4 linked regions of the Homo sapiens genome follow. The protein of the gene in region 3 interacts with the protein of the main gene of each other region in a biochemical or structural test. Each region holds a gene or a part of one and is shown on either strand. Other genes may lie near its edges.

The links.
Region 1: the proteins of ERBIN (region 3) and NCBP2L interact in a test that uses a peptide from one of them, tested with the Homo sapiens proteins (one large-scale study listed by IntAct).
Region 2: the proteins of ERBIN (region 3) and HDAC7 interact in a test that uses a peptide from one of them, tested with the Homo sapiens proteins (one large-scale study listed by IntAct).
Region 4: the proteins of ERBIN (region 3) and FLVCR1 interact in a test that uses a peptide from one of them, tested with the Homo sapiens proteins (one large-scale study listed by IntAct).

What each region holds. Positions count from the first base shown.
Region 1 is NC_000023.11:107,784,233-107,787,732, reverse strand, and holds part of NCBP2L (nuclear cap-binding protein subunit 2-like), read right to left. Parts: intron 1-3,500.
Region 2 is NC_000012.12:47,788,904-47,792,403, reverse strand, and holds part of HDAC7 (histone deacetylase 7), read left to right. Parts: exon of another isoform or gene 1-399; coding exon 400-533; intron 534-697; coding exon 698-818; intron 819-1,095; coding exon 1,096-1,145; intron 1,146-2,483; coding exon 2,484-2,591; intron 2,592-2,825; coding exon 2,826-2,881; intron 2,882-3,055; coding exon 3,056-3,143; intron 3,144-3,500. UniProt on the Homo sapiens protein: Responsible for the deacetylation of lysine residues on the N-terminal part of the core histones (H2A, H2B, H3 and H4).
Region 3 is NC_000005.10:66,079,811-66,083,046, forward strand, and holds the end of ERBIN (erbin), read left to right. Parts: 3' UTR 1-2,736; downstream 2,737-3,236. UniProt on the Homo sapiens protein: Acts as an adapter for the receptor ERBB2, in epithelia. By binding the unphosphorylated 'Tyr-1248' of receptor ERBB2, it may contribute to stabilize this unphosphorylated state.
Region 4 is NC_000001.11:212,864,775-212,868,274, reverse strand, and holds part of FLVCR1 (choline/ethanolamine transporter FLVCR1), read right to left. Parts: intron 1-3,500.

The DNA.
Region 1 (3,500 bases), on a different chromosome or scaffold from region 3:
TAAGACTGTTCCTAATGGGTGAGAGAGCTGAGAGCCATTGTTGAGGACTGGAACCCTGTGGCCAAATATCTACTTTGTGCCAAGAGAAATTCATGTCTGATTGAGACTGCCTAGTGCTCAGAGTGACAGAAGATGTTCATATGTATTTAACACCTGTATTTAAATGAGTAGTTAAACATAAACATGTCATGGAGGTGAGAGATGAGAAATTACTTAATGGGTACAATCTACACTGTTTGGGTGACGGTTACATTAAAAGCCCAGACTTCACCACTCTGCAATATATCCATGTACCAAAACTGCACTCGAACCCCTTAAATTTGTACAAATAAATAAATAAACAAACATAAGCTGAAACAGACTGGCAGAACTAAAGCGGAGACAATGGCCTGAGACAGGCTACAGGAGAAAAGAGGATAATAAGTGACTGTTTAGTGTAGAAGCTGATCTGGATTAAATTAGGAAGCAGGTGTTAATGGATGCTTGAATTTTTTTGTTTATCATTTGCACTATATGGCCTTACTGTTCAAAGTGTTGTCCGTGGGCCAGCAGGAGCAGCACACCTGGGAGCTTTTTAGAAATGCAGGATCTCAGGCCCCTCCCTAGATCTGCTGAATAATAATCTTCATTTTAACGAGTTTCAGGTGATTTGAGTGCACAGTACAGTTTGAGAAGCACTGACGTATGTGGTTTCTTAGTTGAACTTTTGCCTAACAAAATTCTCTGTCCCTTCCTCCTTCCTTCTCTCCCTTGTACCACCTCTCCTAGTTTCCCAATCTTAGTTTCCTTGTGATCTGGCACATAACTCTAATCATGGCTGATAGCCCCAAAAGTAGTGTTCCCAATATATCCAGATAAAGAAAAGAAAAGAAAAGAGTGGTCAGATATATATTGTAAAGCACAGGTTTGGGCAGTAGGAAACCATTGACTTGGCCTCTAATTGTGCTGTCTGTATAACTTTTGTCAAGTTCCTTGACCCTTCTGAGCCTCAGTCTGTAAAATAAGGGTCATTATAGTATTTACCTCATAGTGTTGTTGTGAGAATGAAATGAAATGAGGGGAAGGTATGTAAACTGCCTAACACAGCGCCTGACACACAGTAAGTGCTCAGTATGTGGTAGTCATTATTATTGAAAGCCATCAGTTCTGAAGTAAACTTAGAACTATGTTATGATTCCAGACTTTCAAAGTCCCCATGAGTCTTTCTGGAGAGCCTCCGGAAAGCCCTGTGTACCTCATCCAGTTCAGCTTTCTTGACTCCAGTACCAGCAGTCAAGCAAAAGTATTTCTTATTCCCTTGGATTGTCTTCTTGTTTTTGCTGAATTACCAAGATTTCCTACTTTGTCATTGCAAATGGCCCACATTTTTAGTACATTAAAGCTAAAAACATCTTTTGTGGGCTGGTCTGGAAATGTAGTTCAATTTATAACAATTTTTTTCTCCTATGGAAAAATGCATGTCACCTTCCAAACAATTGACTTGAGAGTGAACTTTGAGAGCTCAGCCTGTCTGCAGCTTGGAGGCTCCCTGTATGTCAATATATGGAGTGGTCACAAAGGCTAGGTAAACCAAGTCCAGAATTCCAGAGGTGGCTGAAAGACAATTGACAATGCTACAAGGAGTGGAAAGTAGGGCAAATGGATCAATCTGCGTGCACAGTATCAAGATTTAGAAAGCTAATACAGGAAGGGAGATATACCTCTGGAAGGATATTAAAAAATAGCCACAATGACAACACAAACCATTTTTTTTTTTACTATATTAGGTCAGGGGCCCCTAATCGGTAGCTTGGGATCTACAAACAATATCAAGGCCTTGCAAGCTAACTCTCCAACATGATCGCCCTTCTCCTGCCCTGCTCTCTGCAGTTTACCTGGATTCTCAGCTCAGAGAGGAAGACAGTAAGCAGCATCTCCCCAATCCTCTTCACTCCCACACCCTGGTAGCCAGCCCCCAGATTCAGTAAACTTCCCTCTACCTTTAATTTCCGTCTTCCCAGGGAGATCAAGGCATCAGGAATATACAACACAGTTTTTCCTTACAAAAAGGATGAGGACTCCTGTATTGGGTAAAATAAGATGACTGGTGAAAACAGGGCCCCCAGGATGGAGAGGGCTGGAAAGACAGTAAGAAAGGACCATGAAAAAGCAAAGGACTTTTGTGCCTTCTCCCTGAAGTTGTTAGCAAGAAAACCAATTGTATCTGGGGGAACTCTGGGTTAACATGGCAGCAAGATAACACAGTCTGATACCCACCATCTAGGAATGCCCATTAAAATATCCATGAAGCTTTGCAACAAAAAACTAAAACTTGCACTAGCTACGGAAAATAGGGGAAAAGGGACTGTTAATTGCTAATGGAGAAGGAATTTCTGCTAGCTGTTGTAGGGAGATGGGGTTGGACTGAGGAACATATTTATAATCTACATACACTCTACCCTCCTATCCAGAACAGCAAAAGTGCCCAACAAAGTTGGGGAAAGATTTTGATTCACTTCTACCAACTGTCCTTAGATTGGAAATACAGAGGCTCATCAGAAAACCAATGTCATCCCTTTACTATAAAGAAAATATTTTCAGAGGCAACAACAGCTCTGTTCCACTTCTTCTACCATCAATTCCTCTATTTTATTTTTTTCTCTTTCTTTCTTTCTCCTTCCTTCCTTCCTTTCTTTCTTTCCTTCTTTCTTTCTTTCCTTCCTTCCTTCCTTCCTTCCTTCTTTCTTTCCTTCCTTCTTTCTTTTGTTTGTTTTTGAGACAAGGTCTCATTCTGTGGCCCAGGCTGGAGTGCAGTGGCACAATCACAGCTCACTACAGCCTCAACCTCCCAGGCTCAAGCAATCTTCCCACCTCAGCCTCCTGAGTAGCTGAAACCACAGGTGCATGCCACCACACCTGGCTATTTTTTTTTTTTTTTTTTTTTTTGTGGAGATGGGGTTTTGCCATGTTGCCCAGGCTGGTCTTGAACTCCTGAGCTTAAGTGATCCACCCGCCTCAGCTTCCCAAAGTGTTGGAATTACAGGCGTGAGCCACCGCATCTGCCCAGCTCCTCTATTTCCTATATGCTTTGTGGAGACCACAACTTGAGAACACCATGTGGCTGGTGATGGTGGTAGCGGTGGTTGGGGCCAGAGATTGTTATGGTTGGGGCCAGAGATTGTTATCGGGAAAAGTTCTGAACATAAGCATGCTTGCAGACATTATATCTGAAAAAATGTAATGTGTAACATGTAATTTCATATTACATATATAAATATGTAATATGTAATTTCATGTAATATGAAATAATGTAACATGTAACAAATTGCAGAGTTGAATGACCCAAAAGATCAGAGATGGAAGATTCCATCTATCTCAGTCCAGCCAAACCTAAAAATAATGATAGCAGCAACAATAACACTATCAACTGCCACCAGTTGCTGGGCAATTATTATATGCCAGACACTATATTAAGTACTTAACATGTCATGCATTATCTTACATACTCCTCATAGTAAACA
Region 2 (3,500 bases), on a different chromosome or scaffold from region 3:
TCTGGGTTCATGACACGTGTGTGAGATGCTGTACGTTAGGCCTCATGCTTTGCTCTGAGCACTTGAGGGCCTGGTGCTGGGCCCTCGAGTCCTGGGCCACCCAGCAGTCGTGTCCGCATGTGGGAAGGCCGTGGCTCTGTGGCAGCCATGTTGGCTGGAGCTGTGTTGATGTGTTGGCTGCTGCCACCTGGGGAAGTGTCTGGGCGTGTGTGGACAGGTGTGAGGGGCTGGGGCTGGGGTAGGGGCAGGATGAAATGCAGGCCTGTGTGGGTGTGAGGGGTGTGTACCCGCCCGGCTCCATGTGGGTGCCTGCTGTGGCGGTGCTGGCGTGTTCTCTGCAGCCAAGGCCATGGGGCGTGAGGACTCCCTGGGTCCCCGCTCTGACCCTTGCTCCTGCAGGGCTGATCTATGACTCGGTCATGCTGAAGCACCAGTGCTCCTGCGGTGACAACAGCAGGCACCCGGAGCACGCCGGCCGCATCCAGAGCATCTGGTCCCGGCTGCAGGAGCGGGGGCTCCGGAGCCAGTGTGAGGTGAGGAGGCGCGGGTGGGGCCCGAGGAATGGGTGGAGGGAGGAGTCATGGGAGGGGAGGGGTGGGGGGCCCTGGGGCCCATGAGAGATGAGGGGCACATGGGGTGGTGGTGATGGGAGGGAAGGGGCGAGCATGAGCTCAGAGCTCTGTGGTCCCCTTTTCAGTGTCTCCGAGGCCGGAAGGCCTCCCTGGAAGAGCTGCAGTCGGTCCACTCTGAGCGGCACGTGCTCCTCTACGGCACCAACCCGCTCAGCCGCCTCAAACTGGACAACGGGAAGCTGGCAGGTAATGGCCTAGTGGCCCTGTCTCCCCATGCCAGCTTACCTCACCCAGCTCCCATGCACTCCTGTCTCGGCTCTGCCCGCCCAGCCAGCCTCCTCCTGCACCCTGGACGTCCCTACTCCAGCTTGCTGCCAAGCCCCTCCTCAGCCCACCTCCACCTCTCCCTTCCATATTTCTCTCCCCCAATACTCACCCGGCCCTGCTCTCTGGGCTCCCTGCTCCCTGTTGGGCCAAAGGCTGAGAGTATTCACGCTGACGTGGGCTGGGCCTCTCCCCGCAGGGCTCCTGGCACAGCGGATGTTTGTGATGCTGCCCTGTGGTGGGGTTGGGGTAAGTGTGCCCAGGGGTCTCAGGGGGGCGTTGCCAGGGCTCTCAGCTCTCCTCCCTGTGGTTCTCCCAGGCCCAGCCCCTGCAGAACCTCTGCTTGTTGTGGTTCTGCCAGACAGGGTGAGCCAGGGACTTCCTGAGGTGCCCCCTGCAGCAGGAAGCTCCTTTTGGACAGGCGTGTCTCGGACCCACAGTCTCCCCCGAATGCGGAGTCCAGCCTAAGCCTTCCCCTAGAAGGTGTCTGGTAGATGTTGAGTGAGGTTTCAGGAGCAGGGCCAAGGCTGGGGCTTAGGATCATCTCTCCCTTCAAAGACCCCCATGACTGGGCATTGGCCGCCAGGCTGCTCTGTCTGCTCTTAAGTGGCAAGTTGGGGTACCTCAGCCTGGTCCCCAGACCTTGGGCTGCCTGGTGTGACATCACGGTGGTGCTTCCGGTGTCCTTGGCGATCCCAGCACTCCCCACTCCGGGACATAGCCCCAAACTCCGCTCGCGAGCTTTGCTTCCTAAGTCCTCACCCCTTTGTGAAGGGAGCTTCCCGCTCCCTCCGGCTCAGCTCTCCTCGCCTAACACTATCCCTGCAGTAGTTTCTCAAGCAAGGTGTGTAGAGGCAGGGGATGGAGGCCTCATTCCGGAGGGAAAGTGGGAGCTGTAGCTGGTGGGGGACTTTGGGAGCCAGTCAGTGCCCTATTCACAACTTCCCATTTCTTGCCACTTTCTGGTTTTTCCAACTGTTGTTGCTTCTGTTTTCTCCTCCCTCCTCTCCCTCTCTGTCTTTCTCTCTCTCTCTCTTTCTCCAGCCTCTTGCGACTCTCTCTGCCTTCCTCGCCTCTCTTGGTCTGCCTCGCCCTCCCCATCTCCCCATCATGCCCCCCGGCCCCTCCCTAGCCTTGAGGCCCAGGGACTGGGTTTGGGGGGCCTCCCAGCCTGGGCTAGGGGCCCTGAGTGGAAGACAGTGGTGCAGACGGCCCCTCCAGCTCCGACCGTCCCGCAGGGCCTGAGCAGAGTCAGCTGGGGCTTAAAACCCCCTCCCGGCCCAAACCCCAAGTCCCGCCCAGGTAACGCCATGCCCCCTCCCCTGACCGGGGAGGCAGGCGTGATGCTGCCAGCAGAGTGCTGGCCAGATAATGGGCTGGTGCTGGGACTTAAGCTGGGAAAAAGTCATGCTGGGATTGGGGGACACAGGAGGCCTTGCCTTTGGGCGGTGGGGCACTGGGGAGGCAGCACTGTCTGCCCAGCTCCCTGCCCCTGGGGTCCTGGCCGTGGGGTGGGGACCACCCCCTTGGGCCCTGGCTCCTGTGTGAAGCCTTGGATGATGCGGGCCCTGACTCTGGCTCCCGCAGGTGGACACTGACACCATCTGGAATGAGCTTCATTCCTCCAATGCAGCCCGCTGGGCCGCTGGCAGTGTCACTGACCTCGCCTTCAAAGTGGCTTCTCGTGAGCTAAAGGTAGGAGGTTTGGGTTGAAGGTGGACACACCACAAAGGAGGAAGCAGAGTGGGGTAGTGGGGAATCCAGGCCCAGAACCCCAGGCATCGCATTCCTCTTAGAGATTGCTACAGGGTTTTGGAGGGGAAATTGAGGGCTCTGGGAACCAGGTTGAGATTGGAACTCTTGGGGTACGTTCATGCAGCTGTGGGTCAGAGCTGTCTGTTGATTGACAAGCATTCTTTCTTTTTCCAGAATGGTTTCGCTGTGGTGCGGCCCCCAGGACACCATGCAGATCATTCAACAGCCATGTAAGGCTAAGGGAAGACCTGGGTGGGATGAGGTGGGGGGCAAGCCCCCAGGAACTTCCTTCAGGGACATTCTCTCTTCTTCCCTGAGCTTTCTCAGGCTGGGCCAACCCAGGGGCCTGGGGAGGTGAGGGCATGTGGAGAGAATGGGCTGGCAGGACCTGTCTCTCCTTCCAGGGGCTTCTGCTTCTTCAACTCAGTGGCCATCGCCTGCCGGCAGCTGCAACAGCAGAGCAAGGCCAGCAAGATCCTCATTGTAGACTGGGTAGGTGCCTGTCCGTAGCACCCTCCAATTCGAGAGCCCTGGGGGAAAAGCCCTGAGCCTGATGTTAGAGATGCGGCTTCATGTCTTAGTTCTGCAGTAGCCTCTCTGAGCCTCAGTTTCCCCTTGTGTAAAATTTGGGTGAAGATAACACCCACATCACAGTTGGGAGGCCTAGAGGGGATGGCGTGTGGGAACGCATTCAGCCATCGCAAACCCCTGCAACGAGTAGGAGCTGTCATTTGAGTGTTGTCTTTTGACCTCTATTGGCTTCTTTTGGCAGATCTAGTAATTTCTGCATTTCCTGTACAGGTAGTGATGATAAGAATAATAGCAGATAACATCAGTACACCACTAATC
Region 3 (3,236 bases):
CCACCAACTGCCTTTCTTTGTTCCTAGTTACTGTAACAAATATTTGATGATAGAGGTTTATTAATTTTGTTTATCCAGACCATTAATTTTATTTGTTTTTGTTCTATGTAATCAAATAAAATTTGAGTAACATGTAATGGTAAGGATTAATGCATGGTTATTTGGACCAGAAAAAAGTGCCATAGAAGACCAATAACTGTTTAGTTGAGGCTAGTCTGGAACCTTTCATTAGAGCAATATTTGGTTATTGCACTTCATTTTTATTTACTAAGAAATGCAATTTGGGAATTTTTAATCTGTTATGCTTTGTTTATCAACCTTGATTTTAATTAAGACTTTTATAAGACTAGCTTAAAACACCAACCAACATTATTTTTGCAAAAGTGAGTTGGACTCACTTTCCATTCTTGCTAGTCAGAGTAAGTAGGCAGCACTTTTAAAAATATGTGAACTCAAATATTGCACTTCTTTCAAGATGTTATCAATTGGTTATTGTACTGTATAGTTTTAATAATTTTGATTGAAACCCTTTAACAACTCTTTGTAAATTTTAACTCATTTTAGTTGATTTTCAGTACTATTTACATAGGAATTGATTTTTATGGATATAGTAGAAGAAATGTGCTGTATTTTGATAAAATTCACTTATTGTATGTGTGTTGTAATCTAAAAAAAAAAAGAATGACAAACAGCTTCTTTAAGACAAGTCTCGGTGTTCCCTTTATTCTTAGTTTGTTTTTAAATATTAATTTTGGCATTCTAAAATAGCTAACATTTCTTTTATTGATTTCAGATTTTCACAGGCACATTCTACTTTTAATCAGAAATATATTTAATAAGTATAATTGTGAAGTTTTCAACTACTTTACCTTGAACCACATATACCAATTATAATTTTGGAAAAGGAATTAAGCCTCACGGAACAATGGATCTTCAGCAAACCTTAACTTCATTGTCTGCACATTACATTGAAGTATTATAAATGCAACAGATGTTATATGCACTGGCATTTTATCCTACTCTAGTTAGTTAAAATTTTATAGTATTCTTGCAACACATAAAGTTGCGTAAGAAACTTTACCAAGAGGAGTATTATAGCCAAGTTTTCTTTGAAAGTATTGGAAAACTAAAATTAAATGACAAGGACTTTGAATTAGAATTTTGCTGTAATAAAGTTTCAAAATTTGAATAAAATAATTAAATTTTTTGAGGAAGTGGAGAAGACATTTTTAGTTTATATATTGTTGAGTAAATTGTAGTTAAGGCCTATACCCATAACTAACTTTAGTAAGTATTATATAGCAATTCATCAAAACCACAACTGTCTTTTAGTGATTTTGTCTTTAAGAGTAATTTCTTACTCTAACCAGTAAAAAAATAATACTGATCAGAGTAATTTATACGGCATACAATAGTTGATACAATCTAAAGATTTATGCTAATTAAGGAATTATCACTTCATCTGAATCAATGAAATTCTAAAATTCCCTACATATTTATTTTGTAAATATTCTTCTGACCTCTTTGGACTGGATATGAAGATATATATATATACACTTAATTCTTTTAAACACAAAACTTGCCATAAGCAGAACCAAACTTTTAAGTATTAATTTGCTGCACTTAAAAAATCCCATTAGCAGCTATGTAATATTTTTATCAACCAACATTTATTCATTCCAAATTTTTGTATATATCTAGATGAAGTAACACATAGAGGATAGATAACAAACTAATGATGTTTAAACTGGTTTATTTACAAAATTCGGGGTTAGAGAAATTCTCATGAAAAATATACAATTTTTTTTTAGCATTAAAACCCTGTATATCTAGGTGTGGAAGAAGTGTAGTTTATCTCAAATTATTATTATTTACTTCTAAAGGGAGGCATTAAGATGGGAAATGTTTCTCTGATGGAGATTGACGTGTGAAATCTATTTGGAAGGGTATTTTTTTCACTCAGTCTGTTGCATTCTTACAGCCTTCTGTTTTAATGTTCAGTGAATAGGTTTCTTATGAAATGGACATTGAAATAAAAATTATGATTCAAGAGCATTAATTGATGAACAAGTGAACAAGATGCCTCTTTAAAAAAAAAAAAGAAAAAGTAATCTAGACAGGCAGCCAACTCAGACCTTTGGGTATTCCTTTGTTTCTAAATAAGGACCTTCAGAAAAAGTTGACCATATTCTACCTAAAGCTGCTAATTCTTTACAGAATTCATAAGCCCAGGGGATAGTAAGTAGTCATTTAGTTTTGGAAAGTTCTTAAGAGAATGCTATCTTCTACAGTCTCATGAAGCAGTTTTTCAAGATTAGAATCTGTGGTCAGCTATAACGTACAGTCCTAATATCCAACCACCTGAGAAGCTCATCCTAAGCTGAGAAAGCCTAAAATGTTAGAGAATGTTTAGAGAAAACACCTGAAATTTTTTTTAAGAGAACAACCTAGGTTTTATTGTAGAGAACAATCAAAATACTCCTGAACCTTTCTATAGAATCTTTAGGAGAGAGGCTGACAAAAAGAATCCTTCTGTTACAACTTTCTTTTCTAATGTAACAACCAGGGACAATGGTGATCTGTCACGCATCTGCCCATCTAGCTTCTCAATCGGCCCACGGTTTTATTTCAGGATAAAATTTGAGAAACTAGTATCACTGGGGAAGGAAGAAACCTAAGCTGTAAAATTATGCTTTTCCCCTCAAGGGATTCAATAAAGCTTATTTTTCATGAAAACAAGCCTATAAATACTGACTTTCCTTAAACCTAATCAAATTGTGTTCCTCCAAGGTATAGCTTTAGAAGGATCTTCTTTCAGTTGCTCTTTCAAACTTTTCCTTGTTAGAAAAGAAAAACTAATACAAATTGTTAAAAAATTAAAGCATGAGCAGAGAGCATGGATTTTAGATGATTTTAAGTTTCCTCATCTTCATGAAAAGAAGAACCTAATACTCTGAGAAGTAATGCCTGTCCAGAATGCACACTAAACATCTCATATTTGGATCATCCTTCACTGCAGCATCCCTCAAAGGAACATTCATTCTCCCAAGAACAAGAGGAATTGTTTGCAGATAAATTATTCAAGGTAGCAAAATGGAGCATGCTTCAATCTCCTCATCCTGTCCACATACCTACAAAGGACAGAAAAGATTATTAATACTATGATAGGCAAGAGTGTTATGTAATAATAATATTACCAGTTTTGTAAAAAAAAAAAGGGAGTACACTGGATCCAT
Region 4 (3,500 bases), on a different chromosome or scaffold from region 3:
ATATAAAAAATAGCCAGGCATGATAGCACACACCTGTAGTCCCAGCTACTCAGAGGGCTGAGGTAGGAAGATTGCTTAAGGCTGGCCAGGAGATCAAGGGTGCAGTGAGCTGAGATTGTGCCACTGCACTCCAGCCTGGGTGACAGGGCGAGACCCCATCTCTTAAAAAAGAATTAAAAGTAAAATTATCACACCTGTAATCCCAGCACTTTGAGAGGCTGAGGTGGGCGAATCATGAGGTCAGGAGATCGAGACCATCCTGGCTAACACGGTGAAACCCCATCTCTACTAAAAATACAAAAAATTAGCCGGGCGCGGTGGTGGGTGCCTGTAGTCCCAGCTACTCAGGAGGCTGAGGCAGGAGAATGGTGTGAACCCGGGAGGCAGAGCTTGCAGTGAGCCAAGATCGCGCCACTGTACTCCTGCCTGGGTGAAAGAGCGAGACTCCATCTCAAAAAAAAAAAAAAAAAGTAAAATTATGCACACATTATATGCTTATGTGTTTAAGCATATTAATATTAAATATTTTTATTGTGATTACTTTTGGCTTCTGTCATCCACTCATTTTAGTGAATCAGGAAAGTATTTTAATTGACACATGAGTTAAATGACATAGTTTACTGCTCTGCTGCACAAGAACAGCTTTTAAATACAACAGCATTACCACTTATGCAAGAATCTGAATTCGAACAAAAAATAAGGCTCAGTAAAAATTAAAATGTTATTTTTTATCTGTAACTTTTATATAGGGAGTTAAATTGTCTAGGCTTAAATCTGACCTTCAGTGTTTACTATAACCTTGGACAAATTAGATTTAACTAAATTCTGTGCCTCAGTTTCCTTGTCTATAAAATGGGAATATTGGTACCCTCCTCACAGAGTCATGAGGATTAAATGAGATACAGCATGTAGTAAGCCTCCAAACATGTTTGGCACATACCAACAAACCAAATGTTTGAGGCTATAATAGAGTTCTCCTAATAGGAATAGGGTATTAGTGTGAAATTCAGTGGAATGCTTGGGTTAATTCCTGGAAACACTAGATGGATTATACTCAATATAAGCTCCATGAGGGAGAGGAACAGTTACATGGCATGAACCTTTGAGAAAATATTTTAAGCAGACTGCTGAGTATCAATTTAGTACATGTCACGTTGCGGAAAAATCTCAACAAAATTAAATTATTTTATGAGGACGTGGTGGGACTTCCAAAGTAAGTATGGATAGAATTCAGAGAGAAGTAAAATCACCTTTTAGTAATTAAGGAACTTTATTTGGTATGGATTTTTTTAAGTAATCCAAAGTTTGCTCAATAGCAAATATTTGGGAATGAGGAAAACAAGTATGTGTTCTATTTAAATGTCACAATTTTCAACTTAAGACTTTCATATCACAGCTGTATACTATCTTGCTTTTATAATATGCTTGGGATCATAAAATTAAAATTAGAGTCCTCCAAGCAAAAGTTGACAAAGAGCCTTTGTTTAATGCCATATTTCCCATTATTTTCCCCTCATTTCTATTTCCACTCTCTACCTGTAGGCCATGAGTACATAATTAGTTAAGTACATAATCAGATCTCTTTTAATTTCTCAAATAACAAAGGGTAATATGCCAATAGTCATACCTATTATTATCATTCTTGGTCTCCCTCCTTCAACAAGTAAAGATCTTTTATTTGTAGCAGTTTAAACATACACACATCACATGTATGATTTCGTGATATCTTACATGCAATCTCTTACTTTCTCACTTCTTTCTGAGACAAGCAATTGAAGAGGATTTAAAAAAAAAAAAAAAGGAAAATCAGAATTTATGTGAAGACACAAAAGTAATCAAAAGAAAGAGAATTTTGGCCGGGTGCAGTGGCTCACACCAGTAATCCCAGCCCTTTGGGAGGCCGAGGCAGGCAGATCATTTGAGGTCAGGAGTTCGAGACCAGACTGGCCAACATGGTGAAACCCCATCTCTACTAAAAACACACAAAAAAGGCCGGGCTCGGTGGCTCATGCCTGTAATTCCAGCACTTTGGGAGGCCAAGGCGGGCAGATCACCTGAGGTCAGAAGTTCGAGACCAGCCTGGCCAACATGGTGAAACCCCGTCTCTACTAAAAATACAAAAATTAGCCAGGCATGGTGGCACGCGCCTGTAATCTCAGCTACTTGGGAGGCTGAGGCACAAGAATCCCTTGAATGTGGGAGGCAGAGGTTGCAGTGAGTCGAAATTGCGCCACTGCACTCCAGCCTGGCTGACAGAGCAAGACTCTGTCTCAAAAAAAAAAAAAAAAAAAAACCAAACCCCAAAAATTAGCCAAATGCCTGTAATCCCAGGGAGGGAGGCTGAGGCACGAGAACTGCTTGAACCCAGGAGGCAGAGATTGCAGTGAGTCCAGATAGCGCCACTGCCCTCCAGCCTGGGTGACAGAGCGAGACTCCGTCTTGATAAAAAAAAAAAAAGAGAGAGAATTCTATACTTTAAAAATCCCTATTGCTGGCCGGGCCTGGTGGCTCATGCCTATAATCCCAGCACTTTGGGAGGTTGAGGCAGGTGGATCATTTGAGGTCAGGAGTTTGAGACCAACCTGACCAACATGGTGAAACCCTGTCTCTACTGAAAATACAAAAATTAGCTGGCATGGTGGTGCATGCCTGTAAGCCCAGCTGCTCGGGAGGCTGAGGCAGGAGAATCACTTGAACTTGGGAGGTAGAGGTTTCAGTGAGCTGAGATCATGCCACTGCACTCCAGCCTGGGTGACAGAGCGAGACTCTGTCTCAAAAAAAAAAAAAAATCCCTATTGCAAATGGAAGGTCCATTTATGCAAAATGTATTTCCTATTTCATCTAGCAAATCAAACATGGCTACCAGAAAAGCAGACTTAAGAATTGTGGTGTTTTTACCGCATGCTCTCACTCATAGGTGGGAACTGAACAATGAGAACACATGGACACTGGAAGGGGAACATCACACACCGGGACCTATTGTGGGATGGGGGGTGGGGGGAGGGATAGCATTAGGAGATATACCTAATGTAAATGACGAGTTAATGGGTGCAGCACACCAACATGGCACATGTATACATATGTAACAAACCTGCACGTTGTGCACATGTACCCTAAAACTTATAATAAAAAAAAAAAGAATTTTGGTGTTTTTTTTTTAAGAATACAAATTTCTTTTAAAACTTTGCTAAACTGCTAAAATAGGATAGGAATAATGTGTCCTTCTTAGTAGTCTGCACATCACAAATATGCCACTCCATAACTAACTGAAAACCAAAACCAACAAGTGGATTACACATGTTTGAATACTTCATATGTTACCAAGAGAACATTCTGCTCATTATATTAAGGGAAATTAAGTATGTGGGCTGAGCTTCCTGTACCTGGATCCTGCAGTTCATCTACCAAGGCAGTCTCTACCCAAACACTCTAGAATCTTCAGCATACATTTCTTTGAAAACTAAGAATTTTATATCTGGAGATCACAAAATATGAATTTT